4 linked regions of the Homo sapiens genome follow. The gene in region 2 interacts genetically with the main gene of each other region. Each region holds a gene or a part of one and is shown on either strand. Other genes may lie near its edges.

Evidence for each region. A genetic interaction does not mean that the proteins touch.
Region 1: changes in FASN (region 2) and LENG8 together harm fitness more than expected from each alone (negative genetic interaction), as found in Homo sapiens cells (one large-scale study listed by BioGRID).
Region 3: changes in FASN (region 2) and BAG6 together harm fitness more than expected from each alone (negative genetic interaction), as found in Homo sapiens cells (one large-scale study listed by BioGRID).
Region 4: changes in FASN (region 2) and MYLIP together harm fitness less than expected from each alone (positive genetic interaction), as found in Homo sapiens cells (one large-scale study listed by BioGRID).

Annotation. Positions count from the first base shown.
Region 1 is NC_000019.10:54,455,699-54,459,198, reverse strand, and holds part of LENG8 (leukocyte receptor cluster member 8), read right to left. Parts: intron 3,233-3,500; coding exon 2,954-3,232; intron 2,875-2,953; coding exon 2,734-2,874; intron 2,564-2,733; coding exon 2,278-2,563; intron 1,453-2,277; coding exon 1,351-1,452; intron 1,266-1,350; coding exon 1,197-1,265; intron 1,097-1,196; coding exon 967-1,096; intron 886-966; coding exon 678-885; coding exon of another isoform or gene 293-677; exon of another isoform or gene 1-292.
Region 2 is NC_000017.11:82,081,237-82,084,736, reverse strand, and holds part of FASN (fatty acid synthase), read left to right. Parts: intron 1-20; coding exon 21-224; intron 225-352; coding exon 353-503; intron 504-583; coding exon 584-762; intron 763-845; coding exon 846-965; intron 966-1,097; coding exon 1,098-1,220; intron 1,221-1,311; coding exon 1,312-1,535; intron 1,536-1,621; coding exon 1,622-1,823; intron 1,824-2,058; coding exon 2,059-2,210; intron 2,211-2,322; coding exon 2,323-2,414; intron 2,415-2,576; coding exon 2,577-2,728; intron 2,729-2,893; coding exon 2,894-3,136; intron 3,137-3,384; coding exon 3,385-3,500. UniProt on the Homo sapiens protein: Fatty acid synthetase is a multifunctional enzyme that catalyzes the de novo biosynthesis of long-chain saturated fatty acids starting from acetyl-CoA and malonyl-CoA in the presence of NADPH.
Region 3 is NC_000006.12:31,642,662-31,646,161, reverse strand, and holds part of BAG6 (large proline-rich protein BAG6), read left to right. Parts: intron 1-557; coding exon 558-755; intron 756-963; coding exon 964-1,216; intron 1,217-1,532; coding exon of another isoform or gene 1,533-1,559; coding exon 1,560-1,637; intron 1,638-1,747; coding exon 1,748-1,855; intron 1,856-1,967; coding exon 1,968-2,080; intron 2,081-2,184; coding exon 2,185-2,272; intron 2,273-3,046; coding exon 3,047-3,333; intron 3,334-3,500. UniProt on the Homo sapiens protein: ATP-independent molecular chaperone preventing the aggregation of misfolded and hydrophobic patches-containing proteins.
Region 4 is NC_000006.12:16,142,586-16,146,085, forward strand, and holds part of MYLIP (E3 ubiquitin-protein ligase MYLIP), read left to right. Parts: intron 1-434; coding exon 435-632; intron 633-1,113; coding exon 1,114-1,278; intron 1,279-2,311; coding exon 2,312-2,732; intron 2,733-3,500. UniProt on the Homo sapiens protein: E3 ubiquitin-protein ligase that mediates ubiquitination and subsequent proteasomal degradation of myosin regulatory light chain (MRLC), LDLR, VLDLR and LRP8. Activity depends on E2 enzymes of the UBE2D family.

The sequences.
Region 1 (3,500 bases), on a different chromosome or scaffold from region 2:
TGACAAGCGAAAACCTCTCTTGACATTGCCCAGCGTCGCCTGGGCACCTCAATCACCAGACAGAACCATGCGTCTAAACATGAGTCAAGCAACTCATCCCCACCCACAGCAAGCCAGGCGCAATGTCTAGTGAACGAAGGACACTGCAGGGGCATGGCCTGACCAGGGGCCTCTGGCACCGCGCCCAGTGTGGCCTCAACACAGGTGTCTCCCTAAGCGTTTCTGGTGCTCTCAAAGGAGCTGAGTGGGACTGGGCCTTGTCCTGGTAGACCAGAGGCTGTCTAGATGGTCTCTATGGTGGGAGCACAGCGACAAGCTGAGAAAGCAGAGACCTCAGGGTTCTGAGGAAGCCCAGGGCAAGGAGTGAACTAGGGGGTCCAGGCAGGAGAGAACAGGAGGAAGAGACACACAGATGGGGTGGAGAAGAGGCCCCAGAGGCAGTGAGCTGGGAACAGTGGGGAGAGGGAGAGGAGTGACCCGGAACACAGAGGTGACCAACAAGGAGAGCAAGAGGAACTGGAGAGGGGAGGGCTGAATGGAGAAAGATGATGGGGAAGCAAGGACCAGGACAAGGGTTGGGGGCTGGGGGAGGCCTGCGGCCAGGAGCTGGTCTGAGGGGCGGTGCGAGGCGGAAGGATGGGAAGAGCAAAGGCAGAAGGGAGCTTGGCACCACATACGTTTTGATCATGGCCTTGAGGGCGACCTTGCGCTCCCGATCTGCAAACTTGTCCACGAGGTAGCCAGACATGCAGGGTGCATGGCAGTAGAGCCGGAAAAAGCGGTGGTAGTTGCCCAGGGCCCAGGCTGTCCTTAATGCCAAGGCGTGGGCCACGCAAGGATCTGCCTTCAGTTCTCGTGTGAGGTATGCCAGCTCCGTGGTGATGTCTAGCACCAAGACAAAGAGGGTGAAGTCAGCAGGGCTCAACCCTGGGTACCATGGCCTCTGTCCTGGGGACTGGGCCTCACCTCCCGAGTTCTTGGTGAAGATGTAGTAGAGGATTCGGTAGGCAGTAAACTCGCCCACATTGCCAGGCAAGTTCTCGGCGTACAGCGACTTGAGCTGCGTCTGGCACTGGTTAAACTCTTCATGGTCACCCTGGAAGGCAGAGGCACCGAGGGAGGAGAGCAGAGTGAGGGTGCTGAGGGCAGAACGGCAGCAGGAAAGGGGCTGGGGAGGCCCGCAGAGGCCAGCTCACCTTCTCCAAGGCGATCCGGGCATGGGTCTCGTACACCTCCACCGTGAACTCGGTGCGGATGCCCTGCACCTGGGGCAGCGGGGCGAGAACAAGAGTCACAAGGAGCGGGAGGCAGGACTGGCTGAGGCCAGGCCCCTCCCAGCGCGAGTCTCACCGTCAGATCCTGCCGGATCGACTTCATCTGCTCGCAGGCAAACGCGTAGTCCTGCTTCTCTTTCCAGTGGCACTTGACCATGCACAGCGACTTTTTCAAAACCTGAAAAAGGGAACTGAATTCACACTCGGAGTACAACTCAGGTAGCGTGGCCAACGGCTTCCACTTATTTGGTGGGAGAGTTGCAACATTAAAAAAAGAAAAAAAAGGCCAGGCGCAGTGGCTCACGCCTGTAATCCCAGCACTTTGGGAGGCCGAGGTGTGTGGATCATCTGAGGTCAGGAGTTTGAGACCAACCTGGCCAACATGGTGAAACCCCGTCTCTACTAAAAATACAAAAATCAGCCAGGCGTAGTGGCAGACGCCTGTAATCCCAGCCACTAGGGAGGCTGAGGCAGGAGAATCGCTTGAAGCCGGGGAGCGGAGGCTGCGGTGAGCCAAGATCACGCCATTGCACTCCAGCTTGGGCGACAGAGCCAGACTCTCTCCCAAAAAAAGAGAAAACAAACCCACAAGACATGGGTTAAGAGTGGCCACCTCCACACCCATTTCCCTATAAGCACATGGCTGTTCACAGGTTCTGCAGCAGAACAGTGACTACGCCAAACACTGGAAACACAGCCCCCCACGCCCCACAGCCCACGGGCCTGGGAGAAGGCTTTATGCTCCGTGTCACCTAAGCCAGGAACCACGGCCCAGAGGTCAAGCGATTCGCCGGCCAAGCTGCACACCCGCCACGCGGGGCTCCAGGGCAGCAGAGCGCCTTTGCGCTCCTCTCAGAATGCCGACCAGCCGAGGCGTCTCTGGCCGAGCTTCCCCTGCCATACCAGAGCCCCCGTGTGGCCTCTGCCACCCTCCCTGGGTTGGCTCCCCAAGTCCTGAGCCAGCACGGCCTCACAGAGCAGAACTGCCCTGCTGGGCACTTACTGCCACAGGGCGCACGGTGGACGGGTCGGGGGCACAGGTGAGGCGCAGGTAGTGCTTGGTGATGTCAGGGCAGGTGCCCACGATCTGCAGCTCCTGCCAGTCAGGGTCAGCCCCACTGCTCTCCAGGCTGCTCATCTGCAGCACCAGGGGCTCGAGGCGCAGGCGGCGGGAGTGTCCGTGCTGGAAGCGGGCTGCCCGCTTCTGCTTCTTCAGCTCTCGCTCCGGGTCCTCACACTCCAGCGCCGCCATCTTCTTTCGACTGCGCTTGGTGGGCGCCAGATCGTGCCTAGGAAGGGATGAGGGGCAGTGAGCGCGACAGGCGTCTCCAGCCCCCCTTCAGCCTCGCCCCTTTGGCAGCTGGCTGTCCACCTGTCCGGCCCTCCTCCTCCTTCTCCCATGGGTCCCCAGTACCCTCCTCCACCCTGGCCCGTGTGTCGAGCCCTCACACAGTCTCACCTCTTCCCACGCTGCGCCCTGCCTCGGCCCCGATCCATATGGGCCCCTCGACCGCCCCGGCCCTTAGGGGGCGGGTTCCTGCGGCCCACAGGGTGACACTCATTCCCTGAGTAGGAGCTGTCGGAGTCTGAGTGGGAGTCACTGCAGGAAGAAGCAGGAGGGTCAGGCCTGAAACGCCTCCCCCTCCCTCACACACAGCCCCAGCCGGGAGCCTCAGTACCTTCTGCGGAAGTGGCGCGTCGGGGACCTGGAGGAGGAGCGGGAGCGGGAGTCTGTGCTGGAAGAAGAGCTGTTGTCCTTCATGAAGACGTTGCGGTTGCCAAACTTGGTGAAGCTGTTGCCCCGGGCTCGACCGGCACCCCCAGCCCCGGGCGTCCCTCGCTGGGACGGGGCACCCCCGCCCCTTGTCGCCGAGCCTGCCCCTCTAGGAGGGTGAAGGCTGCTAGCGGCCTCCCACCGCTTCTTCTTAGGGCTCTCAGCCACAGGCTCCCGGGTCAGCCTGAGAATACAGCAGGGCAGGGCGTCACCAACCCCGCCAGACACTGGCAGGACAGCCGCCACCACCTCCCTCAAGGTACCGACCCGCCTCCGAAAGGAAAGGCACTTACCCCAGGCGGCTCAGCTACTACAGTGCAGAAATGAGACGCGAACCCAGGTTTTCCGTCTCCAGAGGGTGCGCTTAACCACTGAGCAATGCACGCCTCTCCAGCACCCATGGTCCCCACCCCACCCCACCGGCCTCCCTCCAACCAGGACTTCATCCCCCC
Region 2 (3,500 bases):
CCACCTCCCTGTTTCCCTAGACAAGCCTGAGGAGCCGACGGCACATGCCTTTGTGAGCACCCTCACCCGGGGGGACCTGTCCTCCATCCGCTGGGTCTGCTCCTCGCTGCGCCATGCCCAGCCCACCTGCCCTGGCGCCCAGCTCTGCACGGTCTACTACGCCTCCCTCAACTTCCGCGACATCATGCTGGCCACTGGCAAGCTGTCCCCTGATGCCATCCCAGGTATGGGTGGCATGGGGCCGTGGGAGTGGACTGGGCCGGGGAGCAGAGACCCCAGCAGCTAGGACCTGCCTGGGAGCCCCTCGGGAGGGAAGGGCAGGCGGTGAGGGGCTCAGTGCCGTCTCCCCCAGGGAAGTGGACCTCCCAGGACAGCCTGCTAGGTATGGAGTTCTCGGGCCGAGACGCCAGCGGCAAGCGTGTGATGGGACTGGTGCCTGCCAAGGGCCTGGCCACCTCTGTCCTGCTGTCACCGGACTTCCTCTGGGATGTGCCTTCCAACTGGTGAGTGTGTCGAGGGTGTGAGCCTGGGCCCCACGTGGATGGCGGCCAGGCCTGTGCTGACCCACCTGCTGCATCCCCAGGACGCTGGAGGAGGCGGCCTCGGTGCCTGTCGTCTACAGCACGGCCTACTACGCGCTGGTGGTGCGTGGGCGGGTGCGCCCCGGGGAGACGCTGCTCATCCACTCGGGCTCGGGCGGCGTGGGCCAGGCCGCCATCGCCATCGCCCTCAGTCTGGGCTGCCGCGTCTTCACCACCGTGGGTAAGGCCCCGCCCCCGGTGCCTCCCGCTGCCCTCCTGGCCCCGCCGCCCTGGCTCACCAGCCGCGCTTCCTCTCTTCACCAGGGTCGGCTGAGAAGCGGGCGTACCTCCAGGCCAGGTTCCCCCAGCTCGACAGCACCAGCTTCGCCAACTCCCGGGACACATCCTTCGAGCAGCATGTGCTGTGGCACACGGGCGGGAAGGGTGAGTGGCCCCCACAGCCCCCACCTGCCTCCTGCCTAGCCTCCGGCCCAGGGAGAAGCAGGGTCTGGCCCTCTGGACTGTGGTGGCTGGGCTTGCAGTGGGTGTGATTGTCTGGCCCCTCTGGCCCCCTAGGCGTTGACCTGGTCTTGAACTCCTTGGCGGAAGAGAAGCTGCAGGCCAGCGTGAGGTGCTTGGCTACGCACGGTCGCTTCCTGGAAATTGGCAAATTCGACCTTTCTCAGAACCACCCGCTCGGTGAGGCCGGCAGCGCCTGGGCGGGGGTGGGCATGGATGGGTGTGGGTGGACCTGTGGAAGGCCCTGGGTGAGCACGGCCCCTGCCCGCAGGCATGGCTATCTTCCTGAAGAACGTGACATTCCACGGGGTCCTACTGGATGCGTTCTTCAACGAGAGCAGTGCTGACTGGCGGGAGGTGTGGGCGCTTGTGCAGGCCGGCATCCGGGATGGGGTGGTACGGCCCCTCAAGTGCACGGTGTTCCATGGGGCCCAGGTGGAGGACGCCTTCCGCTACATGGCCCAAGGGAAGCACATTGGCAAAGTCGTCGTGCAGGTGAGGGGAGGAGTCCCGGCGCCTCGGGCACCCCAGGCTCTGGTCCCCAGGCAGTGCCTGAGCCGGTGGGTGCTGCTTGGACGCAGGTGCTTGCGGAGGAGCCGGAGGCAGTGCTGAAGGGGGCCAAACCCAAGCTGATGTCGGCCATCTCCAAGACCTTCTGCCCGGCCCACAAGAGCTACATCATCGCTGGTGGTCTGGGTGGCTTCGGCCTGGAGTTGGCGCAGTGGCTGATACAGCGTGGGGTGCAGAAGCTCGTGTTGACTTCTCGCTCCGGGATCCGGACAGGTGAGTCGGCAGGGGTGCTTGTGGACCAGCCTGGGCCAGGCACAGCCCCGGGCCCCTGAGCCCTTCTCTGCAGCCCACCATTGTGGGCTGTCACGGTGCCTGGGGTCTGTCCCCCTCCATCTTGTGGGGGGCTTGCTGGATGGGGCTCTGCGGCTGCTCCCCACTTCCCCAGCCCGGCGTGTAGGGAAGAGACCGTACCCTGGCCCAGTCCAGCCCACAGTCCTGTGTCCCGCAGGCTACCAGGCCAAGCAGGTCCGCCGGTGGAGGCGCCAGGGCGTACAGGTGCAGGTGTCCACCAGCAACATCAGCTCACTGGAGGGGGCCCGGGGCCTCATTGCCGAGGCGGCGCAGCTTGGGCCCGTGGGCGGCGTCTTCAACCTGGCCGTGGTGAGGGAAGGCCCCAAATGGGGCCCTCAAAAGCCCCAAGACCAAGGGGGGGACCCTGGGTGGACGGGTGAGGCCCTGGAGCTGCAGGGAGTGCTGAGGATGCCTCCCCCAGGTCTTGAGAGATGGCTTGCTGGAGAACCAGACCCCAGAGTTCTTCCAGGACGTCTGCAAGCCCAAGTACAGCGGCACCCTGAACCTGGACAGGTGGGTACCGCACAGCCCTGCTCCCGCCTCTGCCGGGCTCTGGGCTCAGGGCCGTGGGAGCCAAGGTGGTTTGTTGACAGCCCTCTCTGGCGTTTCCTGGGGATGGGACGTTGGGGGCTCCTGGGGATGCTGGCCAATGGGGAGTGACACGCGTGCCCACAGGGTGACCCGAGAGGCGTGCCCTGAGCTGGACTACTTTGTGGTCTTCTCCTCTGTGAGCTGCGGGCGTGGCAATGCGGGACAGAGCAACTACGGCTTTGCCAATTCCGCCATGGAGCGTATCTGTGAGAAACGCCGGCACGAAGGCCTCCCAGGTGGGCCCCACCCTCTCCCCTCGACCCTGCCCACCCTGCCCTCTCCCAGTGGCCACTCCCCACCCCCACCTTCTCCCCGCAGCCCTGCCCACCCCACCCTCTCCCAGTGGCCACTCCCCACCCCGACCTCCCCGCAGCTCTGCCCACCTGCCCCCTCCCCCACAGGCCTGGCCGTGCAGTGGGGCGCCATCGGCGACGTGGGCATTTTGGTGGAGACGATGAGCACCAACGACACGATCGTCAGTGGCACGCTGCCCCAGCGCATGGCGTCCTGCCTGGAGGTGCTGGACCTCTTCCTGAACCAGCCCCACATGGTCCTGAGCAGCTTTGTGCTGGCTGAGAAGGCTGCGGCCTATAGGGACAGGGACAGCCAGCGGGACCTGGTGGAGGCCGTGGCACACATCCTGGGTGAGCACTCCCAGTAGGAGCCGCGCCAGGTGTTTCCCCTGCTGGCATCAGGGTCTTGGGACATAGCAGTCGTGCCCCTGTGCGCCTCAGTTTCCCCATCTGCAGAGCCAGGGTGCGGGCGCAGGTGTCACTGTGGTGGTGGTGCTTTGGGAGATGCACAGCCCACGCACCCCTGGGTGTCAGCCCTGCCGCATACAGGCCGTCCCCATGCCCCCTCTGGAGTTGCCGACCCGGCGCATCCCTTCCAGGCATCCGCGACTTGGCTGCTGTCAACCTGGACAGCTCACTGGCGGACCTGGGCCTGGACTCGCTCATGAGCGTGGAGGTGCGCCAGACGCTGGAGCGTGAGCTCAACCTGGTGCTG
Region 3 (3,500 bases), on a different chromosome or scaffold from region 2:
ATATAAACATTAGCTGGATGTAGTGGTGCACACCTGTAATCCCAGCTACTCAGGAGGCTGAGGCAGGAGAATCGCTAGAACTCGGGAGGAGGGGGTTGCAGTGAGCCGAGATTGCACTACTGCACTCTAGCCTGGGTGACAGAGCGAGACTGTCTCAAAAAACAAAACAAAACAAAAAAACACACATTGCAACAAAACAATTTCTCTCTAAACCTGTAAGTGATTTTGTCCTCCCTTACAGAGAAGGTGATAATCTTTGCTGTAAGCACTGTCCTCGTATCGTACCCCTTGTGCCCCTGAATGAATTTAGAAAATGTAAAGTACAGGAGATCAGTATATGATGACTTACTGATTCATAGTAGTGTTTTAATAGGATGTTCCTTATGTGAATAAGATATAATTTATTTGCAAAGATTTGGTCTACATGTAAACTTCCAAGGATATAACTGAAAGTTTTGGAGGACATGGTATTCTCAGTAGGCATTATTGCTTTTATTAGTGAGATGGACTCCAGCTTGATATTTTCTGCCTTTTTGTGTTTGGCTGGTTGTGCGCAGCACGAGGGCCGGGAGGAGGATCAGCGGTTGATCAACTTGGTAGGGGAGAGCCTGCGACTGCTGGGCAACACCTTTGTTGCACTGTCTGACCTGCGCTGCAATCTGGCCTGCACGCCCCCACGACACCTGCATGTGGTCCGGCCTATGTCTCACTACACCACCCCCATGGTGCTCCAGCAGGCAGCCATTCCCATACAGGTGGGTTAGGGGGAGTCTGGCCTGAGGGAGAGTGAGGGGTGTTGATAGAGTGACCCAGGGTAGCTACTGGGCCTGAAGGAGGTTAGGAAAGGAGGAGACTGGAAACATGGTGATGAAGGCTGGAGATACTTTAGAGGTTTATCATGAGGTTTTCTTGGTTAGGCTCTTGTATTTTTCTCACATCTGCCTGTCCATCTGTCTTTTTCAGATCAATGTGGGAACCACTGTGACCATGACAGGAAATGGGACTCGGCCCCCCCCAACTCCCAATGCAGAGGCACCTCCCCCTGGTCCTGGGCAGGCCTCATCCGTGGCTCCGTCTTCTACCAATGTCGAGTCCTCAGCTGAGGGGGCTCCCCCGCCAGGTCCAGCTCCCCCGCCAGCCACCAGCCACCCGAGGGTCATCCGGATTTCCCACCAGAGTGTGGAACCCGTGGTCATGATGCACATGAACATTCAAGGTGAGAATAGTTGCTGGCGAGAAGAGCAGGATCAGCATGATGAGGGAGGTTCATGCTGAGGTGTGAGGGAACAGGGTGGGGAAGGGAGAGGCACATGCTGGTGGTGGTAGCCTGGGGACCAGAGCAGAAGCTTAAGTAGACAGATGTGGGGGGTGTGGGGGTTGGTTTGTCTTTGGAGGTGTGTTTGTGTGGTGAAGGGAGTACCTCTCCCTGTTTAGATGGAGGGAAAGGCAGGCTTTCTGATTGGGGGATTATGGGCCTGAAGTATGCCTGATCTCAGAAGGATATAGTTAGGCCTTGGCCCTACCTACCTCAGGGCCACTGTCTCTGTCTCCCTGCCCAGATTCTGGCACACAGCCTGGTGGTGTTCCGAGTGCTCCCACTGGCCCCCTGGGACCCCCTGGTCATGGCCAAACCCTGGGTAAGAGTGAGGGCATCAGGGCAGGCTGAGCTCTGGGTAGAGAAAGGGAAGGGCTGAGTGGGTGGGTTGAAGGGGTCCAGGTTCAAGGTTACATCAGACCCGCCCCCCAGGCTCCACCCTCATCCAGCTGCCCTCCCTGCCCCCTGAGTTCATGCACGCCGTCGCCCACCAGATCACTCATCAGGCCATGGTGGCAGCTGTTGCCTCCGCGGCCGCAGGTAATGACCTGGAAGGGGAGGCTTGGGAGGTAGGGCACAGTCCATGGTGGCAGCTGGCTGGCAAGGGCCTGGCCCTCAGCCCTCTTCGGTCTGTCTCTTCTGCCACCCACAGGACAGCAGGTGCCAGGCTTCCCAACAGCTCCAACCCGGGTGGTGATTGCCCGGCCCACTCCTCCACAGGCTCGGCCTTCCCATCCTGGAGGGCCCCCAGTCTCTGGGACACTGGTGAGCAAGGGTCGGGGAGTTCTAGTGCGTAACAGTCTAGGGAGAGACTCCTGTGGTGGTGCATGGAAGGGCAGGTCTGAAATTCTCCCTTGCTCTCTATCCAGCAGGGCGCCGGTCTGGGTACCAATGCCTCGTTGGCCCAGATGGTGAGCGGCCTTGTGGGGCAGCTTCTTATGCAGCCAGTCCTTGTGGGTGAGTTTTCATTCTTCCCCACTCAGAGTTTAAACTCCTTTCCTAGTCTGCTCACTGGCACTTTCCAGTTCTTTCCATATTTTCTTGGTTCCTGCTTTCCTGGAATGGGGCTGCTGTAGTGTCTTGTGTCTTCAGGTTTCAGCTTTTTTTTTTTTTTTTTTTTTTTTTGAGATGGAGTCTCACTCTGTTGCTAGGCTGGAGTGCAGTGTACAATCTTGGCTCACTGCAACCTCTGCCTCCCGGGTTCAAGTGATTCTCCTGCCTCAGCCTCCTGAGTAGCTGGGACTACAGGTGCACGCCACCACGCCCAGCTAATTTTTTATGTTTTTAGTAGAGAAGGGGGTTTCACCATGTTGGCCAGGATGGTCTCGAACTCTTGACCTTGTGATCCACCCACCTTGGCCTCCCAAAGTGCTGGGATTACAGGCTTGAGCCATCGTGCCCGGCCAGCTTTTTTCTTTTTTTTTTAAGTTACAGAGTCTTGCTCTGTCACCCAGACTGGAGTGCAATGGTGCAATCCAGTGAGTTAAAGCTCACTGTAACCTTGAACTCCTGGGCTCAAACAGTTCTCCCACCTCAGCCTCCTGAGTAGCTAGCAGTACTAGCTCCTGGCTAGTAATTGTCTTTTTTTTTTTCTGGTAGAGATGGGGTCTTGCTATGTGGCCTAGACTCCTGGGCTCAAGCAGTTCTCATGCCTTGGCCTCCCAAAGTTGCTAGGATTACAGCCAAGAGCCACCATGCTCAGCCCAGCTTTCTTTTTTTGGTTTCTTACAGCTCAGGGGACCCCAGGTATGGCTCCACCGCCAGCCCCTGCCACTGCTTCTGCCAGTGCTGGCACCACCAACACAGCTACCACAGCTGGCCCCGCTCCTGGGGGGCCTGCCCAGCCTCCACCCACCCCTCAACCCTCCATGGCTGATCTTCAGTTCTCTCAGCTTCTGGGGAACCTGCTAGGGCCTGCAGGGCCAGGGGCTGGAGGGTCTGGTGTGGCTTCTCCCACCATCACTGTGGCGATGCCTGGTGTCCCTGCCTTTCTCCAAGGCATGACTGACTTCTTGCAGGTGAGTGGCTGGCTTGCCATTCACCTCATCTTCCTGTCCCCCGGCCCAGCCAGGCAGTGGTACCTTCTTGCCATTATATAACCACTGGGTAAGAGCCCCTAGTGACATGTTAGGGGAAGGGGCCCTGGGAATTCATTGACTCTGAACCTTTCATTTTAAAGATGAAG
Region 4 (3,500 bases), on a different chromosome or scaffold from region 2:
ATCTGAAGGCTCGACTGAGGGTGGCCTCCATGCCAGGTTGACTCCTGTGGTTTGTTGGCCTACCTCCTTCCCTGGCCACAGGGGCCTCAGGGGTCAACTTTATACTTATAAACTATATGTGGACAAATGCATGAGACTTTCCAATATGTAAATTTGACTTATGTATATTTTTAGAGACTTTCCATAATTCTTCCAATTCATCACCCATCCAGCATCCCCAAAGTGTTTTTACCAAGTATTTAATAGTTGAGATCCCAGTGTCTTAGACGTTTTTTATAGTAAGTTCGCTAAATACATGAAACATCAGTAATACATAAGTTTTAAGTTGTTGTGATTCATCAGTGTTAGTATATTTCACTCGTGAAGACTACATAGGTTTATCTCTAAAGCTAATATCTGTATACTTAATTCTCTGTCCTCTTGGTGTCCTCCAGCATTGTTGCAAAACATAAGGAGTTGGAGGGGACCAGCCAGGCTTCAGCTGAATACCAAGTTTTGCAGATTGTGTCGGCAATGGAAAACTATGGCATAGAATGGCATTCTGTGCGGGATAGCGAAGGGCAGAAACTGCTCATTGGGGTTGGACCTGAAGGAATCTCAATTTGTAAAGATGACTTTAGCCCAATTAATAGGTAAGCCAAGACTTAACTTTTTTTGACCTAAGCATGTGTATACATCTGTAGCTGTCAATGTAATAGAAAATAGGAAGGGATTTACTCGACAGTCAGCTCTTAGGAATGAAAGATTTCATTTTGGTATGTACATTAATTTTATTCAGGCCTAAATAACCATTTTAAATGTTATTCAAGGTATACAATGTGGCAGAGTTAACGTTTTCCAAATAACCCATTCACTGCCATAAAAAACTTGTTTTCAGCTCTAGACATGCATGTGCGCACACCCAGCACTTGCTCCCATACTTCCCTCCACATATGCCCAACTGCTTTTCACTGTATCTTTACAATAAGGCAGCATTATGGTGATGTGATAACCCCAGAGGAAGCGTCTGATTTTTCTGCTAGGTCATGAGCAAATGGGGATCCCACAAAGGCACACACATGGTGAAGAATCACTCCTTCTAGATCTGCTTTCTTTTCTCTTCCTGTCTCTTAGGATAGCTTATCCTGTGGTGCAGATGGCCACCCAGTCAGGAAAGAATGTATATTTGACGGTCACCAAGGAATCTGGGAACAGCATCGTGCTCTTGTTTAAAATGATCAGCACCAGGGCGGCCAGCGGGCTCTACCGAGCGATAACAGAGACGCACGCATTCTACAGGCACGTATCTCGTGTGCTTGGTCACCTCAGCACCACAGCTCTCAGGTTTTTAGGTGACAACCAGGTTTCTACGGTTCCTTGGATTGTTGTGTCAATGAGTCTAGTACAGAATTTAAGAAATTCTGAACATTTTGTTTCCGTAGTAGCAGTGGAGTCCTTATTAATGTAGTCTTGTTTTACCCACAGAAGGTGCATGTGTGTGAGCTGCACAAACACATTCTCTGCTTACCTCCTACCGTATTCTCTTATGCCATTAATCTAGACACAAAGTGTGTTAGGAGATTTCTATGCCTATTTAATCAATACAACAACCCTAAGGGGTTATTATTACCCTAATGTTAAAGATGAGGGAACTGGGAGGATAATTATTTACTTAGTCTAGGACTCAGCTTCAAAGCCAAGTTTGATTACCCTAAAGGTAACCCTGAGGGACTGGGCCTGCTCCACTGCTCAGGAGAAGGATAGCACAGATCATCTTTTCTTTCTGGCAGAGCTGCTATCCTGAGTCGTCACTGTGTATGGAAGGATTTTTTAATAGCAATATTGATTCCCTCATTTCAGAGGGTACTTTAAAGCCAAGTTGTGATTGGACTCACGTATTTGGACAATTAAAGCTAAGAAATTTAAGTCGTAGACAACTTTAAACTTTTTTATTTTAAAATAGATACACAAATTGTGAAACAGGATGGGAAATTTTTAGACATTTCTAACCTAAAAGCCAAGACTTCAGGCAGATGCCCTTTTTCTTCCATAAGCAACTTCACTCAGTAGCGTCTGTCCTGGGGAGGAGGTACGTGCTCACTGCCCTCTGTATTTACTGCTTTACGGAAGCCATAATGTCAGGAGATGTTAGAGAAACAGAGGTGTAATCACTGAGAATATTTACCAGACGTAAAACTGGAAGGACTTACTTTCATACATGCAGACGAGACTATGAAACATCTGCTGACATTTCTGTTCTTATTGACAACAGCGAATAAGGGTGCTGCCAGGCTCTTTGGTGTTAAAGTAGATGTTCAATCTTGCCTTGCAGGTGTGACACAGTGACCAGCGCCGTGATGATGCAGTATAGCCGTGACTTGAAGGGCCACTTGGCATCTCTGTTTCTGAATGAAAACATTAACCTTGGCAAGAAATATGTCTTTGATATTAAAAGAACATCAAAGGAGGTGTATGACCATGCCAGGAGGGCTCTGTACAATGCTGGCGTTGTGGACCTCGTTTCAAGAAACAACCAGAGCCCTTCACACTCGCCTCTGAAGTCCTCAGAAAGCAGCATGAACTGCAGCAGCTGCGAGGGCCTCAGCTGCCAGCAGACCCGGGTGCTGCAGGAGAAGCTACGCAAGCTGAAGGAAGCCATGCTGTGCATGGTGTGCTGCGAGGAGGAGATCAACTCCACCTTCTGTCCCTGTGGCCACACTGTGTGCTGTGAGAGCTGCGCCGCCCAGCTACAGGTAGGGGAGTCAGCTGCCCACTTTTGCCTGCAGCCTCACCTATCCCTCCTCTTAACGGGGAGTAGGAGCCAGGTACTGGCTCGCTAATGCACAGACGGGGAATGCCCATCTTCACCCGGAAAGGGTCTTTGTATTTGGTGACCTAAAAGGCATTGCCCTTTAGAAACATTTTAGATTAGCATACTATTTTCAACAACATAATTACTCCAAATTATGCAGTGTTTTCAAGTTCTGAAAATGAGGCTGAGATTCCTGGGTAACATATCTAGTTAGCGGCTTACCTGAGGACAAGAATCCAGGCCTCCTGAGGCCTGGCCCAGGGCTGCTTCCTCTATTTCAAGTTGCCTCCCTTTTTCTGACACTTAGGAGGATGGTCTTTATTACTTAAGATATTTGGGAAAGAATACTTCTCAATTATCCATGGATGGGTTGTTGACTCTGTGATATTGGTGATTAATTTCCTTTTATGATTGCAAATGCCTCAAGGGCATATGGGTTGGCTGTTATTTATTAGCAAGTCAAACTAATTTTAATATTAACACGAAAAAGAGAACTCACATATAGTTTTCTTCCTTTCTTGCATGAAGAAGAATTTTAAATTTCCTCTTACAAGTTTTTTCAATTTGTTTTTATTTCTCAGATGTGTTTGCCAAATGTCACTGTGGTTTTATGTAAAACTGGTTCTAGATAATACTTAGTCCTTCAGAAGCTGCTAATTTCAGAGCTAATAAGACCAAATGACCCCTGTGTCCTTTCCCCAGAAGCAGT